Linked DNA regions of Homo sapiens. The protein of the gene in region 3 interacts with the protein of the main gene of each other region in a pairwise test. Each region holds a gene or a part of one and is shown on either strand. Other genes may lie near its edges. The genes, in order: FARS2, TTPA, DGAT2L6 and SNX4.

Region 1 (3,745 bases), on a different chromosome or scaffold from region 3:
GACTACAAAGTGCCTGGGATGGAAAGGGGGGAACATCAAAGCCCCATATTCTTCCCTAAAGGTCGCCTTCTGGAAGTGGAGGCTGCCTGCTGGGAAAACTTGAAGGGAGTTTGAGGACCTGGCCCCTCTGTGTGCCTCCAAGACTCTGGGGCAGCTCTCGCCCCTTTCCTTCCTCTCCAGTGGGGCAGAAGGCAGCTAAGCCCAAGTCCTGGGGCCAGAGGCCTGACTCCAAGCCATGGGTTTATGAAAAGCAAATAGATATCCTGCCCTGGCTGAAAGACGCACCTCCCTTCACATTGGACGAGAGCCCTGGCATTTCATTAGTGCCCTCTTTGAAGCCTGCCCTTTGCAAAACTGAAAAAGAAGAGAAGGGAGGAAGGAATGGAAGCTGATTCAAAAAGCTTCCTGTATTGTATCTGGAATTTCTGATGTCCCTCTGTGTGGCTTCACTCATTACCTGAGTGGAAGAGCCTGTCAGGCAAGAAATCATGCCTGGTGCTTAATGGAACCCAGGGACCAATTAACCATACTAAGCACCAATGCCAGTGGGCAAAGCACTTCTAAAAGGAATAGGAAAAGACCTTCCTCCTTTCCCCAAATAAAAGACAAATGCTATGTCAACAGCTTTTCAAGAGCGATCTTTTATTTTCTGAAAGTCCTAAAACTGATCCATTTATCAAAAGATGATTGATGCCCCAGTTCACAAACCATATCTTTTTCTCTTTCAGCAAATCCTGGAGCCCCAAGAGGGCTGCAGCCTGAGTGAAGTGGTGACATCAGAACCTGCCCTCCACACCCAACAGCTGGACTGCAGCCTCCTGCAAGGCCTGGTGGATGTGCCTGACCTCTCTCTGGGACAGAGTCCGTTCCATGTGGCGGTACGTGATGCGGTAGCAGTGGCTGGTCTTGTGCGTCCTACAGAGAGGAAGAGAACACAGGTGAGTGCGGGATGAACAAGGCTGTGCCTGAAGGAGCAGTGTGGCTTGCCCTGGCCAGATCTCCCCAACTGCAGTGGAGAACTGAGGTTGGAATCCAGGTACCATTTACCGCTAACAATCTGCATCTTATACAGGGGGAGAAGGTGACAGTCAGGGAAACATTCGCTTGACTAAAGGAGGCTGCTGGTTTCCACTGGGGTGGATGTATCAAAGTCCCCTGGGAAGGAAGCTGACAAATTTGATTTCCCAGGCCACGCTCTGGAGATTTGGATTCAGCAGGTGGGAGGTGGGACCTGGGCTTCTAAGCCTGTCCCCGGTTCCCGACGTGATTCTAACAAGCAGACAGGGTCAGGGGTCAACCCGCGTGTGCCTCCTTCATGTCATGGAAGGTAACCGTGTTTGTGAGGCAAACTGAAGTATCAGCAAGGCTCCAGGCAAGGCTGAGGGACTCACTCCCTCGGCACCCCTGTTGGCTGTCCAGGAAGCATACAGGCCATATATGCCGTGTATGTGCTGTGTAGAGAATTACTTTAGTCTCTCCTTTATGACATTGGTGTTGACTTGGCTTGCATAGAACAGCTGAGTAATTCTGGAATACGTGGAGATGACAGCAGTAGGGCCTTCTATTTGCATGGCAGGTGCTAAGACACACTGGTCAGTTGATCTCATGAGAAAGACCCCTGGGCCATGAACTGGCAGGCCTGGCCCTGTCCCCAACATGTCTCTCACTGGCTGTGTGGCTGGGTGTCTGACATCTCACCATCTCTGAATGCTCACATTTCTCTTCTTCTATACAATAAGGGGATCTGGTCACACAAATTCCTCTTTTCCAACCCCCAGCAGCAGCAGCAGCAGCAGCAGCAGCAACAACAACAGAGGCAACCCAATCCCTTCTTGGCCTTGGGGGAGGAAACTGAAACAAATTGAGGGCTCCCAGGCAGATTCCTTTTATGATGCCGTCAACCAGCCCTTAGCCTAGCCAGGGAGAGGCCACGTGCTTTCTGGCAGGTGAGACAGGGCTGGGCCTTCAGTAATACCAGGGCCTTGAACAAATGGGCTTCTGATTGAGCTGGACCTAGGCCACTCCCACATATTCACTGGAAACTGGTAGTCCCATTGATGCCACCTGAGTCCAGAGCCTTTGCTTCCAGGGTCCTCCCGACACTTCATGGATTGGTCTCACTGGATTCTCTCCTCTTTCCTCTCCCTCTCCCTCATCTGAATGCCAGAGCCCTTGGCTGGGCAGAATATGCCTGGTGCATGAGAGTCTGCCTTGGTCCTGGCCTCCCTAGTCTGCCCCTTCACCTCCCCTTCCAGTGTCTCCTCCCCTCTCTCCCACCCTGGCTTGGTCATCTTTGTCCTGCTTTTGTCCTTCCACTTTCAGGGAAGATAAGCTGCTATGCTGTGCCTCACAGGGTTATGTGCATTTTGGCCACATATGCAGCCCCCGTTTGGATCAAGCCACAGGAGGAAGTTACCACTGAAGGGCTGTGATAAACAAGCTGGGCTGGGGGTGGAAGTTTTCTGTAGGGACCTCCTGGGGATTCCCGATAGCACATGGAGGCCTGCCCCATTCCCTCACCCAATGTCAGCTGCCTGCTTTAGACCAAGGGAGAAATCAAATCCTCTCCCCACCTGGCTCTTTCTTTTTCAGTCCAGCTCAGGCCAATGGCTCTGCTCTGTGGACATTCCTCTGGGGTGGGGACCCTGACTCCTGGGGGAGGCACTGCTGCCCAAACTGCCCCAAGGACCTCCCACAAAGTAGAGTGGTCTTTTCTCCTCACTTTGTGCTCCGAACAACAGTACTCCAGGTACCATGCCCACCCAAGCCTTTCAGGCACCAAAACGCAGCGAGACAGAAAAACCTGGCTTTGAGAGGAAAACAGAGGCTCTCCAGGAGTGGGAGCTTATGAAACTACATAGCCAAGACCCCTGCTGCCACCAAGTGCTGACCCATTCCATTCAAACTACAATTGCTCCATTTACAGTTATTTGGTTTTTGACAAGAGCACCAAGACTATCCAAGGGGGAAATGTCTTTTCAACAATTGATACTGAGACAACTGGATATCCACATGCAAAAGAATGAAGCTGAATCCCTACCTCACACCACACACACACAAACTAACTCAAAATATATCATATATCTCAATATAAGAGCTGAAACTATTATCACTCTTAGAAGAAAACAGATGAGTAAATATTCATGACCGCATAGGCAAAACCTCCTTAGATGACACCAAAAGCACAGGTGAAAAAATTAAAAAAAATGATAAACTTGGAATTCATCAAAATTAGGCATTTTTTTTAATTCAAGGCATACAATCAAGAAAGTCAAAAAGGAACACACAGAATGGGAGAAGATATTTGCAAGTCATATACCTGATAAGGGATTTGTATCTAGAATATACAAAGAACTCTTACAACTCAACGATAAAATAGCCAACAACATAGTAAAACAAATGTACCAAAGATCTGAATAGACATTTCTGCAAAGATAAACAAATGGCCAACAAGCACATGAAAAAATGTTCAACTTCAGCCATCAGGGAAATGCAAATCAAAACCACCATGAGATACCACTTCAGGCCCATTAGGATGCTCATTTTAAAAACAAAAGGAAAATAACAAGTATTGGAGAAGATATGGAGAAATCAGGGCCTGTTTAGAAATTGACAGGACTCTGCAAATTATAAAGTGCTAATTGGGTGTGAGGTGAAAGTATCATTGTGGCAATTATTATCACATTGTGTTTTTTCACTGTTTCACTCTGGTCCCTCCTAGCAGAAGAGCTGGTAATATGGCACC
Region 2 (7,174 bases), on a different chromosome or scaffold from region 3:
CAAAAGTATAAGGAACTAGGCTATCACTTGATATAAGGAATTCATGAGACTATGTAGAACAGGCAGAGAAGTGAATGGTTAGCTGTTTTATATGTTTGTTGTTTTAAATATAAGAGGCAAGTGCAGTGTATTTGACAGCGCAGGCTCTCTCCTGAGCCCAACCCAAATTCAAATCCCTGCTTCAACACTTAATGGCTACATAATTTCAGACAAGTTACTTACTCTTTATATCTGTTTCTTCTAAAATGAGAAAATAATAAAAGATAATCCATGAAAACCCTACTTACCAAAGTATGTTGCATTCTATAAGCACATTAGCTATTAGGATTATATAATAAAACCTTATTAATTCATCATAACTTCAAATACAAACACTAGAATAATGAGAAATTTCATTGTGACTGAGGCACTTATCAAGCTTTCTTTATACAAAAACTATAGGGCTTCTATATTATGAATGAAGAAGTTAGAGTTGAATTAAGTGCTATTGCAGAGGAAAATGAAAAAAAGTTTTGCACTCTTACCCTTTCCTTTTCCTTTCCAGTTGGCAGAAAAGCAAGACAAAGAGTTCACAGACAGAAACTTGATTTCTATGCGGTGGATTTAGACACAGTCCTGCTAGCCAATTCCTCAAGGGCATGGTACAATGAAAACAATTCCTTATTTAAGGAATACAGAAAAAAATATATTATGTCCCAGAGGCTGATGGTCAATTTTATTTTTCTATTTAAACATTACTTTTTTTAAAGCAGCTAAAATGAAATTAGTAAATGAAACATGTTTTATTGTTAGTTATCTCTATACATATATATGTTTAATGCCTCATTTAAGCTTCATTCTTCATAGGACCTGAGATTGTGTTTTCATATTCAGTAGTTACTAAGTACATATTAGTTTATTACTCATGATATTGGGATACTTATATAGCCATCTAAAAAATGAAAATAAATAAAGTTGGATTCCTATTTTACTCCTAACATAAAAACAAATCTCAATAGATCAAAGACCCCAACATAAAAAAGAGAAGACACAAATAACTAGAAAAAATTTTGGACAAGAGAAGAGATTATAAAACCCAGAGGCAATCAAAGACTAATAAAATCAATTCATTTGATTACATTAAAATTTAAAATTCTGCACAGAAAAAAATAGTATAAGTAATGTAACAGATAAAAATCAAGGACAAAGGCCTAAAATATATAAAAAGGCCTAAAATACATAAAAATATTTTATAAATCAGTAAAACATAAAAATGGGATCCATTCCAAGATGGCCGAATAGGAACAGCTCCAGTCTGCAACTCCCAGTGTGATCGATGCAGAAGATGGGTGATTTCTGCGTTTCCAACTGAGGTACCTGGTTCATCTCACTGGGACTGGTTGGACAGTGGGTGCAGCCCATGGAGGGTGGGCTGAAGCAAGGCGGGGCATTGCCTCACCCAGGAAGTGCAAAGGGTTGGGGGATTTCCCTTTCCTAGCCAAGGGAAGCCATGACGGATGTACCGGGAAAAACAGGACACTTCCACCCAAATACTGCACTTTTCCCAAGGTCTTAGCAACTGGCACACAAGGAGATTCTCTCCTGTGCATGGCTTGGCGGGTCCAACACCCATGGAGCCTTGCTCACTGCTAGCGTGGCAGTCTGAGATCTAACTTCAAGGCGGCAGCCTGGCTGGGGGAGGGGCATCTGCCATTGCTGAGGCTTGAGTAGGTAAACAAAGTGGGCCAAAAGCTCGAACTGGGTGGAGCCCACTGCAGCACAGCAAGGCCTACAGCCTCCATAGACTCCACCTCTGTGGGCAGGGCATAGCTGAACAAAAGGCAGCAGACAGCTTCTGCAGACTTAAACGTCCCTGTCTGACAGTTCTGAAGAGCACAGTGGTTCTCCCAGCATGGCATTTCTGCTCTGAGAATGGACAGACTGCCTCCTCAAGTGGGTCCTTGACCCCCATATAGCCTAACTGGGAGACACCTCCCAGTAGGGGCCGACAGACACCTCATATAGGCAGGTGACACTCTGGGACGAAGCTTCCAGAGGAAGGATCAGGCAGCAATATTTGCCGTTCTGCAATATTCACTGTTCTGCAGCCTTCGCTGGTGACACCCAGGCAAACAGGGTCTGGAATGGACCTCCAGCAAACTCCAACAGACCTGCAGCTGAGAGACCTGACTGTTAGAAGGAAAACTAACAAACAGACAGGAATAGCGCCAACATCAACAAAAAGAACATCCACACCAAAACCCCATGTGTAGGTCATGAACGTCAAAGACCAAAGGTGGATAAAACCACAAAGATGGGGAGAAACCAGAGCAGAAAAGCTGAAAATTCTAAAAACCAGAGCGCCTCTTCTCCTCCAAAGGATCACAGCTCCTCACCAGCAATAGAACAAAGCTGGATGGAGAATGACTTTGATGAGTTGACAGAAGTAGGCTTCACAAGGTCAGTAATAACAAACTTGTCTGAGCTAAAGGAGCATGTTCAAACCCAACACAAGGAAGCTAAAATCCTTGAAAAAAGGTTAAACGAATGGCAAACTAGAATAAACAGTGTAGAGAAGACCTTAAATGACCGGATGGAACTGAAAAGCCTGGCACAAGAACTTTGTGATGCACGCACAAGCTTCAGTAGCTGATTCCATCAAGTGGAAAGAAGGGTATCAGTGATTAAAGATCAAATTAATAAAATAAAGCGAGAAGACAAGGTTAGAGAAAAAAGAGTAAAAAGAAATGAACAAAGCCTCCAAGAAATATGGGCCTATGTGAAAAGACCAAATCTACTTTTGATAGGTGTACCTGAAAGTGATGGGGAGAGTGGAACCAGTTGGAAAACACTCTTCAGGATATTATCCAGGAGAACTTCCCCAACCTAGCAAGTCAGGCCAACAATCAAATTCAGGAAATACAGAGAACACCACAAAGATACTCCTCGAGAAGAGCAACCCCAAGACACATAATTGTCAGATTCACCAAGGTTGAAATGAAGGAAGAAATGTTAAGGGCAGCCAGAGAGAAAAGTCGGGTTACCCACAAAGGGAAGCCCATCAGACTAACAGCAGATCTCTCAGTAGAAACCCTACAAACCAGAAGAGAGTAGGGGGCCAACATTCAACATTCTTAAAGAAAAGAATTTTCAACACAGAATTTCATATCCAGCCAAACTAAGCTTCATAAGTGAAGGAGAAATAAAATTCTTTACAGACAAGCTGAGAGATTTTGTCACCACCAGGCCTGCCTTACAAGAGCTCCTGAAAGAAGCATTAAACATGGAAAGGAACAACTGGTACCAGCCACTGCAAAAACATGCCAAATTGTAAAGACCATCAATGCTATGAAGCAACTGCATCAATTAATGGGCAAAATAACCAGCTAACATCATAATGACTGGATCAAATTCACACATAACAATATTAACCTTAAATGTAAATGGGCTAAATGTCCCAATTAAAAGATACAGAGTGGCAAATTGAATAAAGAGTCAAGACCCATCAGATGTCTATAGCACATCTCACATGCAGAGACACATATAGGCTCAAAATAAAGGAATGGAGGAATATCTACCAAGCAAATGGAAAGCAAAAAAAAAGCAGGGGTTGCAATCCTAGTCTCTGATAAAACAGACTTTAAACCAACAAAGATCAAAAGAGACAAAGAAGGTCATTATATAATGGTAAAGGGATCAATTCAACAAGAAGAGCTAACTATCCTAAATACACCCAATACAGGAGCACCCAGATTCTTAAAGCAAGTCCTTAGAGACCTACAAAGAGACTTAGACTCCCACACAATAATAATGGGAGACTTTAACACCCCACTGTCAATATTAGACAGATCAATGAGACAGAAGGTTAACGAGGATATCCAGGACTTGAACTCAGCTCTGCACCAAGCAGACCTAACAGACATCTACAGCGCTCTCCACCCCAAATCAACAGAATATACATTCTTCTCAGCACCACATCACACTCATTCTAAAATTGACCACATAATTGGAAGTAAAGCACTCCTTAGCAAATGTAAAAGAAAAGAAATCACAACAAACTGTCTCTCAGACCACAGCGCAATCAAATTAGAACTCAGGATTAAGAAACTCACTCAAAACCGCACAACTACATGGAAACTGAACCACCTGCTCCTGAATGACTACTGGGTAAATAATGAAATGAAGGCAGAAATAAAGATGTTCTTTGAAACCAATGAGAACAAAGACACAACATACCAGAATCTCTGGGACACATTTAAAGTAGTGTGTAGAGGGAAATTTATAGCACTAAATGCCCACAAGAGAAAGCAGGAAGGATCTCAAATCGACACCCTAACACCACAATTAAAAGAAATAGAGAAGCAAGAGCAAACAAATTCAAAAGCTAGCAGAAGATAAGAAACAACTAAGATCACAGCAGAACTGAAAGAGATAGAGATACAAAAAACCCTTTGAAAAATCAATGAATCTAGAAGCTGGTTTTTTGAAACGATCAACAAAATTGATAGACTGCTAGCAAGACTAATAAAGAAGGCCGGGCATGGTGGCTCACGCCTGTAATCCCAGCACTTTGGGAGGCCAAGGCAGGCGGATCACGACGTCGGGAGATCAAGACCATCCTAGCTAACACGGTGAAACCCCGTCTCTACTAAAAATACAGAAAAATTAGCTGGGCGTGGTGGCGGGCGTCTGTAGTCCCAGCTACTGGGAGGCTGAGGTGGGAGAATGGCGTGAACCCAGGAGGCAGAGCTTGCAGTGAGCCGAATCATGCCACTGCACTCCAGCCTGGGTGACAGAGCGAGACTCCGTATCAAAAAAAAAAAAAAAATAAATAATAATAATAATAAAGAAGAAAAGAGAGAAGAATCAAGTAATCAAATAGACACAAAAAAATGATAAAGGGGATATCACCACCGATCCCACAAAATACAAACTGCCATCAGAGAATACTATAAACACCTCTATGCAAATAAACTGGAAAATCTAGAAGAAATGGATAAATTCCTGGACACATACACCCTCCCAAGACTAAACCAGGAAGAAGTTGAATCTCTGAATAGACCAATAACAGGCTCTGAAATTGAGGCAATAATTAATAGCCTACCAACCAAAAAAAAAAAACAGACCGATTAACAGACAAATTCTAACAGAGGTACAAAAAGGAGCTGGTACCATTCCTTCTGAAACTATTCCAATCAATAGAAAAAGAGGGGATCCTCACAAACTCATTTTATGAGGCCAGCATCATCCTGATATCAAAGCCTGGCAGAGACACAACAAAAAAAGAGAATTTTAGATGAATATCCCTGATGAACATCGATGCAAAAATCCTCAATAAAATACTGGCAAACCGAATCCAGCAGCACATCAAAAAGCTTATCCACCAAGATCAAGTTGGCTTCATCCCTGGAATGCAAGCCTGGTTCAACATACACAAATCAATAAATGTAATCCATCAGATAAACAGAATCAATGACAAAAACCACATGATTATCTCAATAGATGCAGAAAAGGCCTTTGACAAAATTCAACAGCCCTTCATGCTAAAGACTGTCAAAAAACTAGATATTTATGGAACGTATCTCAAAATAATAAGAGGTATTTATGACAGACCCACAGTCAGTATCATACTGAATGGGCCAAAACTGGAAGCATTCCCTTTGAAAACCGGCACAGGACAAGGATGCCCTCTCTCACCATTCCCATTCAACATAGTGTTGGAAATCCTGGCCACGGCAATCAGGCAAGAGAAAGAAATAAAGGGTATTCAATTAGGAAATGGGAAGTCAAATTGTCCCTGTTTGCAGAAGACATGACTGTAAATTTAGAAAACCCCATCGTCTCAACCCAAAATCTCCTTAAGCTGATAAGCAACTTCAGCAAAGTCTCAGGATACAAAATCAATGTGCAAAAATCGCAAGCATTCCTATACACCAATAACGGACAAACAGAGAACTAAATCATGAGTGAACTCCCATTCACAATTGCTACAAACAGAATAAAATACCTAGGAATCCAACTTACAAGGAATGTGAAGGACCTCTTCAAGGAGAACTACAAACCACTGCTCAACAAAATAAAAGAGGACACAAACAAATGGAAGAACATTCCATGCTCATGGGTAGGAAGAATCAATATCATGAAAATGGCCATACTGCCCAAGGTAATTTATAGATTCAATGCCATCCCCATCAAGCTACCAATGACTTTCTTCACAGAACTGGAAAAAACTACTTTAAAGTTCATATTGAACCAAAAAAGAGCCCACATTGCCAAGACAATCCTAAGCAGAAAGAACAAAGCTGGAGGCATCATGCTACCTGACTTCAAACTACGCTACAAGGCTACAGTAACCAAAACAGCATGGTACTGGTACCAAAAGAGATATATAGACCAATGGAACAGAACAGAGGCCTCAGAAATAACACCACACATCTACAACCATCTCATCTTTGACAAATCTGACAAAAACAAAAAATGGGGAAAGGATTCCCTATTTAATAAATGGCGCTGGGAAAACTGGCTAGCCATATGTAGAAAGCTGAAACTGGATCCCTTCCTTACATCTTATACAAAAATTAATTCAAGATGGATTAAAGACTTAAATGTTAGACCTAAAACCATAAAAACCCTAGAAGAAAACCTATGCAATACCATTCAGGCCATAGGTGTGGGCAAGGACTTCATGACTAAAACACCAAAAGCAATGGCAACAAAAGCCAAAACTGAGAAACGGGATCTAATTAAACTAAAGAGCTTCTGCATGGCAAAAGAAACTAGCATCAGAATGAAGAGGCAACCTACAGAATGGGAGAAAATTTTTGCAATCTACCCATCTGACAAAGGGCTAATATCCAGAATGTGCAAGGAACTTAAACAAATTTACAAGAAAAACAACCCCATCAAAAAGTGGGTGAAGGATATGAACAGACACTTCTCAAAAGAAGACATTTATGCAGCCAACGGATACATGTAAAAATGCTCATCATCACTGGTCATCAGAGAAATGCAAATCAAAACCACAATGAGATACTATCTCACGCCAGTTAGAATGGTGATCATTGAAAAGTCAGGAAACGACAGGTGCTGGAGAAGATGTGGAGAAATAAGAATGCTTTTACACTGTTAGTGGGAGTGTAAATTAGTTCAACCACTGTGGAAGACAGTGTGGTGATTCCTCAAGGATCTAGAACTA
Region 3 (4,896 bases):
GAAAAGTGGGTCTCCAGAAAATGAGGAATGGGGACATAGAGTGGTGCATTGGAGAGAACTCTGGTTTGAATGCTAGTTCTATCCAAAGTTGTGTGGCTTTGGGCAAGCTACTAACCCTCTAGGAGCTTTAGCTACTGTGAAATGGAGGTGATGACAATCTCAATCTCACTGGGCTTATGTTTAGTATTGAGAGACAATGGTTATGAAAGCAATGTCATGGTCCCTGGAACATAGAAGGGACTTGACATCAAGCAAACTTACAGTTGGTGCATGGTCTTGTGGCTCCCTCCCTTCTGACATAGGATGGTTATGTGGGATCAGGAGAGGTGGGCTACACAGCGGGTACCTGTGCCAGTTCCCATGTTTCTGCTCCTGTCTCTTACACTTTGCAGCAGCTATGGTTCCATTCCCCCACCTTTTCTGTCCGGGGAAGTATGAAGGGTAAATAAAGAAGAGGAAAAGGGCTCTCCATAGAGCAGCTTTCTGGCCAGAAGGGAAAATCTTAGGTTTGAGGGAAGCCCAATAGCGAACCACAGAATAATCAGGAAATAGTGGTATCCTGTTTTATATGTCTAGAACTTTATTTTCAAAGAAGAAACAATGTAACTGCATTGCCAATCTAGAACTCTATCACAACTGACGGAATCCTGTCTGCTTGGACCAGGCAGCTACAGTTCAGGTCCCTGGTTTACCTTGTGGCAGTTCCCAAGTTGTAAGGAAAGGACCAAGAGGAAACAAACTATCCCTGTTCCAAATAAAGCTTCTAAGTCTAAACCTACGTAGTGATGGTGAACTAAGGTTTAGGAGAAAGGGGCACAGTATTCTTTGTGATCAGAGAGTTGGCTGGAATGATTCATAAGACTCCCCAACTGGGTTGTTGCCCTAAAATAACCAGGGGTGATACAGCCAACTCCTCTGGCTAGCCAGCCCTCCCCAGTCCTCCCCTGCCCCTCTGGTTCTTTCCCCTAAGCCTGCCTCAGCCACTTGGGAGAGGACTCTATTGCTAGAACTCTGATTTATTAAATAATTTCTGGCTTGGATGGTCTCCTCTCTCATCCTTACGATCTTTCCCTCTCCTGGAATTCTTCTTTTTCTGTGGCTCTACTTGGATCCCTCATGGCTTTGGGGGTTGATCAATGGGGAATGTGGCTCCTGTTATGTAATTGTCAGCTCTTGGGTCTCAGGGAGGCCATATTCAACTTTGTGTTGGTCAAAGAGCTTGCGCAGGGCACTGATGTAGAGTGCGTGATACTTGTCTACTGTCTTCTGGTTTGGCCTCTTAATCCTGGGAATTGGAAGGGGTTCCCCAACTATGAAAAAAGAAAAGAGACAAACATCAGAGTTCCCCCCTCAACTCAAACTACTCATCCCTCACTGGGAGCCATGTACTGAAACTCAGTATCTGGCTTTCCTCCCCTTCTTTCTTTCTTTCCCTTTGCTCCAGTCTCATCCTGGCCCCTGTTCTCTGATCATCTAATCAAACCCATGCTCAAGAGAATGCAAGCAAGCTCAGGAGAGTGGTGACAGAATGTGTGCGAATGGTGATGCTCTTGTAGCAGATGCTGATGTCACATCCATGAATGGCCACAACTCTTATCTGTTTAGTTGTCCTACCCACCCTGCTCTTAACCACACCCATTGCCCATCCCAGATGTGAGTTGGGTCCCCCTGGACTTGATGGATGATTTAAAGTGGGTGGGAAGTGAATGAAGAAACAGGTCATCCGGAGATAAGGGAAAGCTCACCAACAGTGGTAATGGGCCGATTGAAAGGCAGGAAGCCCCAGGATCCGCGAGTGAAGCCCCGGCCATGGAAGGTACAGAAATTTAGTCCCAGGATTTTTTTGAATGTGTCCTGGAAGGTTTTTTGGAACAACCTTAACCACGTGCCCTCAGGGAAGGTCTCCTGATTGAAAACTTCGTTCTCACCAAAGGAATATGAAGGGACAAGGTATGCCCTGCAAAGAGAGGGGCAGGAGTGTGAGCTCTCTGAGGAAGATCCCCGGAAAAATCCTCTCCAAGGTGGGAAACCTCTCCAACCTCCCCATTATAGGACAAGAACCCAAGCACCCAAACATCTCCATCTTCATGTCCCATTCCTGCCATGCCTCACTCTCCCAACTGAACTCTGAAGGGAGCTGCTGCTCTGCCTTGTCCTGTTATAGGGAGAAACTAATCTCAAAAGCTCTGTCTTCATTGCATCCAGCATGCAGAGTGTTCTTCGTAAACTGCATATCTGGACATGCCACTCCTCTCAAACTCTTCCAGAGCTCCTCAGTTTGCACCATGCTGCTTCCTTACGGCCTTTTTGCTCTAGCCTTCCCTCCTTGGCTAGCTTTCCCTTTCCCCACTCTTTCCTTGCAATCTGCTTAGCCATATTAAGTGTGCCTCATACTCTCTCATCTCTGTGTCTTTGTACATTCTGCTCCCTCTGTCGGAAGTATCTTCCTTCTTCCCTCTGTCTTTATGTGGCTCATTCAATTTTGCACTCAGTCCCAATCTCATCCCCTTAAAGCAACTTTGTTTGACCACTTCATTTCCCCCAACGCGGATTAGGTACCCCTCATCTAGTGCTTACCTCTCTTCTACACTAACGCTGCCCCAACCGTGTATTATAGTCATCTCCTTACTTGCCTGACTCCCCCAGTAGACAGCAAGCCAATCAAAGGCAAGAACTGGGTCATATTCATCTTTGAATCCCTAGGCCCTGGCATAGCACTTGACATGCCATAGGTCCTCACTGAATGCCTGAGTTCTTTCTCCCTTTTGGTCTGCCTGGCAACTCCTACCAATATTTCAATTCACAGTTCAGATGTTACCCACCTATGAAACCTCTATTCTGGGTCAAGATCTTTCCATAAATTGGTGCTCACGTGGCACTTTGTACACATTTCCATTGTAGTGTTCCATTTATTTAACAAATATTAAGCTCTTTCTATGTGCCAGCACTGTTTTAGGCCCTGGAGATGCATCAGTGAATACAATGGATTTTTAAAAATTCTGTGTTCGTGGAGTTTACTTTTTCTGGGAGGAAGACAGACAATAAACATTGAAAATAGTTGGTAAACAAATAAATAAAATGGATGAGCTATAAGAAGATAAGTGTAACCGGCAAAAAATAGAGCAAGATGGTCAGATAACTGTATTGAGAAGAGACATTTGAGCAAAGACTTGAAGGAGATAAAGGAATGAGCCAAGCAGTCATTTGGAGGAATAGTGTTCCAAGGGAACCGCTAAAGCAAAGACTCTAAAGCAGGAGCGGGTGGCCTGCTTGAGGGACCGCAAAGAGGCCGGTATAGCTATGATGGAGTGAGAGAGTGGGAAGAGAAGTGAGTGATGAGGACAGAGAGGCAGCTATAGACCAGATTATTCCGCGTCTTGCAAGCCCCTATAAAGACTTTGGCTTTTACTCTGAGTGACATGGGAGCCATTGGATTATTTTGAGAAGTGACATGATCTGACTCATGTTTAACAGGATCATCCTGGCTGAAGCTGGGAATAGACTCTTGGGGTGGGGGAGGTGGGAATAGATACAGGAAGAGCAGTTAGAAGTGTTGTAATCAACCAAGGGGAGAGATGGTGGTAGTAAACCAAGGGGTGGTAGCCTAGGTAGTAAGTGGTTGGATTCTGCAGGTATTTGGTAATTATATGTGCATGGGTCTGTCTTCTTCCATATTGGACTGTGAGTTTGCAAGGACCAGGTCTTATTTACTTTTATATCCTAAATGCCTAGTACTATGCCTGATATACAGTGGGTGTTCCGTAACTGCTGAATGAATAAGGTCTATTTCTCAAACCAGATTGTATGCTCTTTGGGGTCATGTCTTATCTTTTTGATCCTCACGGTATCAAAGCTAGTGCCTCCCTTGCAGTTGGTAGATTCTTAGGGCCTCTCAGTTAACAGGTTGATATAGAGTGAAGCCCCGCTTTCCCAGACCTCCAGCCTACCAGGCCAATGGGCAGAAAGTAAAAGGTTTTCTTCTGCTGTTCTTTCTCCAACTTCAAGTAAGAAAAGTGCCCACTGAAATGTATCTGGAGGCCCAAACATCCCTAAGGCACAATGTGAGGGGGTAGACAGAAGGAATTAGAGTGAAGATGGGGGCCCTCTAACAGGTGCCCAGGGAGGGCACCATTCTGGAGAGGGCTACAGAGGGCCTATGGCACCCTGACAACAGAGCACTAGAACCTTGGAACCCACCCTGTTTGCAGTGCCATCTTCACAAAACCTTTACGCTGCTTGAGGAAGAGAGTGGAGGCTCCTGGTCGGCACAAGAGAGCTTCAGCAGCTCCACCCACCACAATAACCACGGCATTGCCTGAGCCTTTCTGGGTCAGCAAGTACTTCAAGGCTGAGCTACTCACAGGGCACACACCTGTGAAACCAAAGAGTCAAGTGGTAGAAAAACTTCATTCCTGAGGATGGGGTAAGGGGTTTTCCCAGGCTCTTCCTTTTGGAGACAGTTCTTCTGTTTTCTGACTATTGCTGTTTCCACCTTTCTGTCTCTGACCTTCGTGTCCCGGGTTATGACTGCCCTAGCCTAAGATTGGTCCTTAGGGTCAGCTGTTTGCCTTGGGGGTCTGTGCTTCTGCAGTTGGGTCTATACTGAGCTCCTCTGCCTCCTACCATCCATAGCCTACTGCATTTCAGATCAATAGTATCTAAGCCCACCTCATCCCTCTCTACCCATGAAGCACAGCCATCTTCCACTCTGCCCAGCCTGACAACACTGGAGATCCTCCAGAGTTCTCTCCTCCAGGGGTAATCGAGACTAGCCACCACCAACCTGCTTCCTCCCTAAGAGTAACCTGCCAAAGGGAAGCCAATGGCTGGGGTTTCTGGAGAGTAGGCAGACCCCTGAGCCTGACCAAGCCAAACTGAAACGTAGATGAATAATGG
Region 4 (7,649 bases), on a different chromosome or scaffold from region 3:
GGACAGAGTAGATGTTTCATAAATATTTACTGCATGTTTAGTTGAGTAGATGAGTGCTTTACTGCAGCCGTTACAGCTCTAGGTTGCATAGAACAGAGACCAGGGCCAGGTGCTGTGCCTCATGCCTGTAATCCCAGGACTTCGGGAAGTCCACGTGGGAGGATCCCTTGAGCCCAGGAGTTCAAGACTAGTCTTGAAAACATAGTAGAACCCCATTTCTACAAAAAAAATAGCTGCACATGGTGGCACGGGCCTATAATCCCAGCTACATGGGAGGTTGAAGTGGAAGGATAGCTTGAACCCAGGAGGTTGAGGCTGCAGTGAGCTATGTTCATGGCACTGCACTCGAGCCTGGGTGGCAGAGTGAGACCCTGTCTCTTAAGAAAAAAGAAAAAAGAACAAAGATGAACTCTAGTCATATAAAGCAAATAGAGAAATAGGACAGGAATTCACAGAATTAAGGCTGGTGATTCTGTAGAAAGTTGCAGAATCAAGGTAGCTCCAGACACTTGGCACAGAACACACAGGAAATTCGACTTGGCAAAAACCTGGCCCTAGCACTGCCACAGGCTCAACCTCCAGCATTCCCTCCGACCCAAGATTCAAACTCTTGGGAGTTTAAGGGTCTGAATTGGTGAGTTGAAATAATCTTCCCAGAGGTGGTACAAGAAGGATCTGGGCTCCTCAACTCCTATGATGAGAGGCTACAATAGAGGTACATATTAAAAATTGCTCCCCACACAAGTCCTCACACAATGAGGAATTTGCTCCAAAAGAATATGGTGGTACTGATAGGAGGGTGGGAAGAAAGATCCTGTGCTGTGACCAAGGGCAAATGTCATCCACACTGACACTGAAAGGAGAAATGGGGTGGGGTTTGGGTTTGATTGCTGCTGAGAAGAAGGGGATAGTTTCAGAGGAAGGAGACAAAAGTGACTGTCACAGTCCCTGGGAGGCTGGCCAGGCACCAGGAGGAAAATCCTGGGAAGAGGGAGAACAGAACCTGGACGATGGGGACCAGAGAATAGATATTTCTTGGTGTTCCCAGGCTAACATGGGAGCTCAAAAAATGTTAAATTAATGACAAATTGAAATCTAAAACATGCTGTTGACATGCAAGGGACTGAAGTACCTTCTGCCTGGCTAGTCACTCCTGCTCCTGAGGCTTTCCCATTCACTCCAGAGCAGGTCACCGCAGGCTCTCCCCCAGTGAGGGCTGTGAGGGGGAATTCCTTCCCTTCCAGAGTCAGAAGAAGGGGGAATATCTATTTCCATAATCTCCATGGAGTTAGCCTTGGGCTTTCCCAGACCTCAGCACACAGGTGTGACTTTGCCTTCATATGCCAAGGAAACCTGTTTTTCTTTGTGTGTGTTCACATAAGGAATCAATTCTCAATTTCCGCAAATTATTTGCATCTTCTCTAGAAGAATCTCTCTTCTTCCTCTCCCCCATGAAGAGAAGCAGCATGGCCCAAGAGCTTGGGTTCTGGGTGTCCTACAAATCTGGGTTTGAATATCTTTCCCTTATTTAATGGCTGTGTGACTTTGTCAAATATTACTGAGCCTGCTTCATTGGTGAAATGGGGAAAATAATGTCTTTTTTGTTTGTTTGTTTGTTGTTTGTTTTGAGACAGAGTCTCTCTCTGTCACCCAGCTGGAGTGCAATGGCACAGTCTCTGCTCACTGCAGCTTTGACCTCCTGGGCTCAAGGGATCCTCCCACTTTAGCCTCCCAAGTAGCTGGGACTACAGGGGCATGCCACCCCATCTGGCTACTTTTCGTATCTCTTGTAGAGACAGGGTCTGACTATGTTGCCCAGCCTGGTCTCGAACTCCTGGGCTCAAGCAATCACTTCGGCTTCCCAAAGTGCTGGGATTTTTTTTTTTTTTTAAGAGTCAGTCTCATTCTGTTCCCTAGGCTGGAGTGCAGTGGTCCTATCATGGATCACTGCAACCTCAAACTCCTGGACTCAAGCGATCTTCCCACCTCAGCCTACTGAGTAGTTGGGATACAGGCACATGTCACCATGCCCAGCTTGTATAATGCCTGTCTTGCAGGGAGGGGCACTGCATGAAAAAGTATTAATATGTGAAGTGCCAAGCACATAAAAAAACTGCAGCTATCATGATTCTGGCCATTGGGCAGGGTGTCCCAAACATGGACCCATTAAAAAAATTCAAAATGCCAGCTACCCTCCCACCTCAGGCTTTTTACATAACCACTAGTTGCTATCTCTTTATCAAAAATAATTTGTTAGCCTATAGACAGCCCCAAGAATAAGGCATATTATCTAGTGCAGGGGTCCCCAACCCCCATGCTGTGGGCTGGTACCAGTCTGTGGTCTGCTAGGAACTCTTGATTTCGAGCAATCTGCCTATCTTGGCCTTCAAAAGTGCTGCGATCACAGGCATGAGCCACCGAGCCCGGCCAAAAGAACCCTTATTTATTTATTTATTTATTTTTGAGACGGAGTCTTGCTCTGTCACCCAGGCTGGAGTGCAGTGGCATGATCTCGGCTTACTGCAACCTCGGCCTCCTGGGTTCAAGCGATTCTCCTGCCCTAGCCTCTGCAGTAGCTAGGATTACAGGTGCATGCCACTATGCCCGGCTGATTTTTGTATTTTTAGTAGAGACGGGGTTTCACCATGTTGGCCAGGCTGGTCTCAAACTCCTGACCTCAAATGATCTGCCCACCTCGGCCTCCCAAAGTGCTGGGATTACAGGCTTGCGCCACCGTGCCCGGCCTTGTTTTTCTCTTTTTTTTGAGACAAGAGTCTCACTCTGTTGCTCAATTCACTGCAACCTCCCACCTCCCAGGTTCAGGCGATTCTTCCTGCCTCAGCCTCCCAAGCAGCTGGGACCACAGGCACACAACACCATGCTCGGCTAATTTTTTGTATTTTAGTAGAGACGGGGTTCACCGTATTGTCCAGGCTGGTCTCGAACTCTTGGCCTCCAGTGATCTGCCCACCTGGGCCTCTCCCAAAGTGCTGGGATTACAGGCCTGAGACTCCCGGCCAAGAACCATTTTTTATTTTATTATTTTTCTTTTTTTCTCACGCTTAACTTGTGGCTTTTAATTTTTTAATGCTCAACTTTTCTAATTTTCCCACAATTAACATGTATTATGTGTATATAAAATAGGGGGAAATAACCATCAGATCCATTCTGCCCTGATTTTAAAATCTATTTTTTTATGAGACGGAGTTTTGCTCTGTTGCCCAGGCTGCAGTGCGGTGCCACGAGCTCGGCTCACTGAGATCAACCTCCGCCTCCCGGGTTCAAGTGATTCTCCTGTCTCAGCCTCCTGAGTAGCTGGGGTTACAGGCGCCCGCCACCACGTCCAGCAAATTTTTTTAGTAAAGACGGGGTTTCACCATGTTGGCCAGGCTGGTCTCAAACTCCTGACCTCAGGCGATCCGCCGGCCTTGGCCTCCCAGTGTTGGGATTACAGGCGTGAGCCACCGTGCCCAGCCCATAACAGATTTATGAACAACTTAGCACTTGAAGATTATAAATGAGCTGAGGTTTTAGGAATGAATGAAAATTTGCTCCCAGGACAGATAAAGCATTCCAGGAAGAGAAAATTGTGTGTTACAGCTTGAAATAACTAAGTGGGCAGAAAAATGTTTCTGTACTTGAAAAATTGAGACCCGACTTTGTATAGAAAGTACTTCAAGGTACCACAATCTGTTACCACCAGTGAGCATTTCCCATCCGGTTGCCATAGTGAAAGCTTGTCAAGGAAGCAGGTTTGGAAAATTTTAAAAAGGGATGTTTGTAGAAAATTATCAGAGGTCTCCAGGGCTTCATGAAACACTTACAACAGAACTCAAGCCCTGCTTCAACAGAACGCTTCACTTTCCTCAAAACCTTGCAAAGGCCAGGCGCAGTGGCTCACGCCTGTAATCCCAGCACTTTGGTAGGCCGAGGTGAGCGGATCACAAGGTCAGGAGTTGCAGACCAGGCTGGCCAAAATGGTGAAACCCCGTCTCTACTAAAAATACAAAATAAATAAATAAATAAATAAATAAAAATTAGCCGGGCGTGGTGGCGGGCGCCTGTAATCCCAGCTACTCCGGAGGCTGAGACAGGAGGATCGCTTGAACCTGGGAGACGGAGGTTGCGGTGACCTGAGATCGCGCCACTGCACGCCAGCCTGGGCAACAAGAGGGAAACTCCGTCTCAAAAAGAAAAAAAAAAAACTTGCAAGTATTACCTTTTGCTGAATGTGTTACTCAACCTGCTGAAAGTTAACAATTTATAGAGCTCTGATCTTTCCGGGAGAAAACAGACCCAATAATAACTGGCAAGGCAGAGGCCCAGAAGGAGCAGGTCAGACTACGCCTCCAATTTCTTTTGAGTTTCGTTGGCTTTAGGATCGCCGTGCCTACTTCAAGTGTTCACTTTCCCCTTGCCTTTCTCTTTGTCTCTCTCTTCACCAGCTGCCCCTGCTTCCTGGGTCTCCTGGCTTAAGCAGCTGACCAGGTCCTCCGCGGGCTTGCGTGTCCTCCCACCCCCGGTTCCGCCTCCAGCTGCAGCTCCGGGAGCCCTCTAGGTTGACAAGAGGGGCGAGGCGATGGCTAGCGGAGGGGCGGGCGTCGCTAGCTGAGAGACTGGTTGGCCGCGGGCGCGGCGGCGGCGCAGGCGCACTGGGTTCGCCGCGCCGAACTGCAGCCATGGAGCAGGCACCTCCGGACCCCGAGCGGCAGCTCCAGCCGGCGCCCTTGGAGCCGCTGGGCTCCCCAGACGCTGGGCTGGGGGCTGCGGTCGGCAAGGAAGCGGAGGGGGCCGGAGAAGAGAGCTCTGGGGTCGACACGGTGAGGAGAAGGGGCGGCAGAGCCCTCATGGCCTGTGTGGTGGCCTAGCGGGCCGGGCTGGGCTGGGCTGGGCTGGGCTGGGCCGGGCCGGGCCAGTGGGCTCGGCCGAGGAGGCCCAGCAGTGAGGGGGAGCGAGGTGGAAAGGCGGGGTCCGCAGGTGCAGTGAGAGGAGGCTCAGTGGAAAAACAGGGTGCTGGGTGTGGGGCGAGCGCCAGGCGCTGCGGGTGACTGAGGGAAGTGTCGAGACTGCGAAGGGGAGGGAAAGGGACCCGGGGGGGCGCCCCCGCAGGCGTGGGGGTCTGGGCCCCGGATGGGCGAGGCTGGAGGAGGGGGTTTTCAGTGGTCGCGTAGCTGGGAGATCTGGACCGTGAGAAGAACGCTGATGTTTCAGCCAGTTGCTAAGGGGTTTTGCTGGGGAGTAGCTTAAAGGGACACAGTGGGGAGTGGGCAACAGTGCTTGAGAAGGAAGGGAATGGGGGACTAGAGTGAGGTGCAGGTCAGGGCCAATAAGGGTGGTTGGCCTGGTGCTGCCATCAGGAAATTGAAGAAAATGTCAGCTTCAAGAAAAGGTACAAATGAGAAAACATTTTTTAGACTCCTCATTTGGCTGTAATTTCTTTGTTTTGGGGGAAGTGCTGTGTTTCCCATTGGAGACTTATTGATAACCCATGTACTTTTTGAAGACCCTTTAGTAATTAGTGATTTTCATTTGCTTGAGGAAAAGGGGAAAAATGTATCATCTTATATTTGTAAGTGCTTTCATTACAAAGTGTTTGCATATACAATTCAAGATTTGTAGACCTGCTTATATTGAAACCTTTAAGAAACTAACTGCAGTGCTCCACATCAGACCACCCTGCCCAAAGTCTCCTTTTGTGTGCATTGCTCACACAGCTCACTTCACCCTCGACCCCCCAGGCTCAAACAATCCTCCTGCCTCAGCCTCCTGAGTAGCTAGGACTACAGGCACACACCACCACGCACGGCTAAATTAATTAATTAATTTATTTATTTATTTATTTTGAGACATAGTCTTTGTCACCCAGGCTGGAATGCAGTGGCACGATCTCGGCTCACTGCAACCTCTGCCTCCCAGGTTCAGGCGATTCTCATCCCTCAGCTACCTGAGTAGCTGGGGTTACAGATGGGCGCCACCACTCCCAGCTAAATTTTTTTTTTTTTTTAGTTTTTAGTAAGGATGGAGTTTTGCCATGTTGGTCAGGCTGGTCTCGAACTTCTGACTTCTAGTGATCCACCCTCCTCGGCCTCCCAAGGTGCTGGGATTACAGGCGTGAGCCATCATGCCCAGCCAAATTTTTGTATTTTTTGTAGAGATGGGTTTTCACCATGTTACCCAGGCTGGTCTGCAACTCCTGGGCTCATGCCCACCTGGGCCTCACAATAGTGCTGGGATTATAGGTGTGAGCCATGGTGCCCGGCCTGAAAGACTTTTAAGTTTAGAGACCAGCTAAGCAGGGACTTCAGGATTTGAAAGTTTTGCCTGCTGTGGAACATACCTGGGTATATAAGGTAGCATGAAGACTTTTTTGGATGTGCTTTTTTTTTCTTTGAGACAGGTTCTCACTCTGTCTCCCAGGCTGGAGTGCAGTGGCACAATCATGGCTCACTGCAACCTTGACCTCCTGGCCTCAAGCGAGCCTCCTGCCTCAGCCTCCTGAGTAGCTGGGACTACAGATGCATGCCACCACACCTGGCTAAGTTTTGGGGTTTTTTTTGTAAAGATGAGGTATCTCTGTGTTGCCCAGACTTGCCTTGAACTTTTGGGTTCAAGCTGTCCTCCTGCCTCAGCCTTCTGAGTAGCTGGGGTTACAGGTACACACCACCACACCCTGCCATTAGGTATTTAATTAATATGAAATTGCAACTAGAATATAAAATCTGTTTATGTTAATTTAAAAGGCATTATATATGTCTTTTATTAATTGAAAGAACACTATGTATATGTAGTTCTAAATATTTGAAAACCCAGGGATGCTATCATGCAGTATAAGTTGTAGTTACATACTACTTCCTGACATTTTTATTCTTTTTTTTTGAGCAGTCTCTTGACCTGTCACCCAGGCTGGAGTGCAGTGGCGTGATCTCGGGTCACTGCAGACCTCTGCCTCCCAGGCTCAAGCGATTCTCATGCCTCAGCCTCCTGAGTAGCTGGGATTACAGGTGTGTGCCACCATGCCCAGCTAATTTTTGTGTTTTTAGTAGAGTTGGGGTTTCATCATGTTCGCCAGGCTGGTCTCGAACTCCTGACCTCAGGCGATCCGCCTGCCTCAGCCTCCTAAAGTGCTGGGATTACAGACATGAGCCACTGCCCTCGGCCTATGTGGTTTCTTAAAACAACTCCCTAATTTAGTAATTCATAAAGAGGCACAAGCCATTTGGGCAAATATTTCAGAATTACTAGGTGTTTAAACAAACATACATTCAGTGCATTCCTTCCCCTTCCCCTCCTCTCCCCTCAAAGAGAAAATCAAACTAAAAACCCGTCCTTTGAAGGTCTTCACATCCCTTCACTTCTCTCCATACTCTCTCTCACTCAGTCTGTCTTCAGTTGAAAATTACTGTAATGTTTTTATGGCCTCATTGTAGCTGTTACTGATAGGAATTTGGTCTCACCAGAAAAGTAAGTTAGTTTTGCGTGTGCTGTGCACAGTGGGGCTCTACTTTTCATTTAATTCCCAAAATTACTTCCAATAGATGGGTAAATGGAACCAGCCAGAGGCTCATAGAGAAGTAATTTGACCATGGTCACAAGCTAGTCAGTAGCATGGCTGGGATTTGAATCTAGGTTCACCTGGCATTGAAATCAGT

Evidence for each region.
Region 1: the proteins of DGAT2L6 (region 3) and FARS2 interact in binary tests that used the Homo sapiens proteins (3 or more experiments, as listed by UniProt).
Region 2: the proteins of DGAT2L6 (region 3) and TTPA interact in binary tests that used the Homo sapiens proteins (3 or more experiments, as listed by UniProt).
Region 4: the proteins of DGAT2L6 (region 3) and SNX4 interact in binary tests that used the Homo sapiens proteins (3 or more experiments, as listed by UniProt).

What each region holds. Positions count from the first base shown.
Region 1 is NC_000006.12:5,768,461-5,772,205, reverse strand, and holds the end of FARS2 (phenylalanine--tRNA ligase, mitochondrial), read right to left. Parts: intron 916-3,745; coding exon 777-915; 3' UTR 623-776; downstream 1-622. UniProt on the Homo sapiens protein: Is responsible for the charging of tRNA(Phe) with phenylalanine in mitochondrial translation.
Region 2 is NC_000008.11:63,075,929-63,083,102, forward strand, and holds part of TTPA (alpha-tocopherol transfer protein), read right to left. Parts: intron 660-7,174; exon of another isoform or gene 525-659; intron 1-524.
Region 3 is NC_000023.11:70,201,366-70,206,261, reverse strand, and holds the end of DGAT2L6 (diacylglycerol O-acyltransferase 2-like protein 6), read right to left. Parts: intron 4,373-4,896; coding exon 4,198-4,372; intron 1,958-4,197; coding exon 1,746-1,957; intron 1,311-1,745; coding exon 1,156-1,310; 3' UTR 558-1,155; downstream 1-557. UniProt on the Homo sapiens protein: Diglyceride acyltransferase that uses fatty acyl-CoA as substrate. Particularly active with oleate as a substrate. Has no wax synthase activity to produce wax esters.
Region 4 is NC_000003.12:125,517,203-125,524,851, reverse strand, and holds the start of SNX4 (sorting nexin-4), read left to right. Parts: upstream 1-4,649; 5' UTR 4,650-4,679; coding exon 4,680-4,820; intron 4,821-7,649. UniProt on the Homo sapiens protein: Involved in the regulation of endocytosis and in several stages of intracellular trafficking. Plays a role in recycling endocytosed transferrin receptor and prevent its degradation.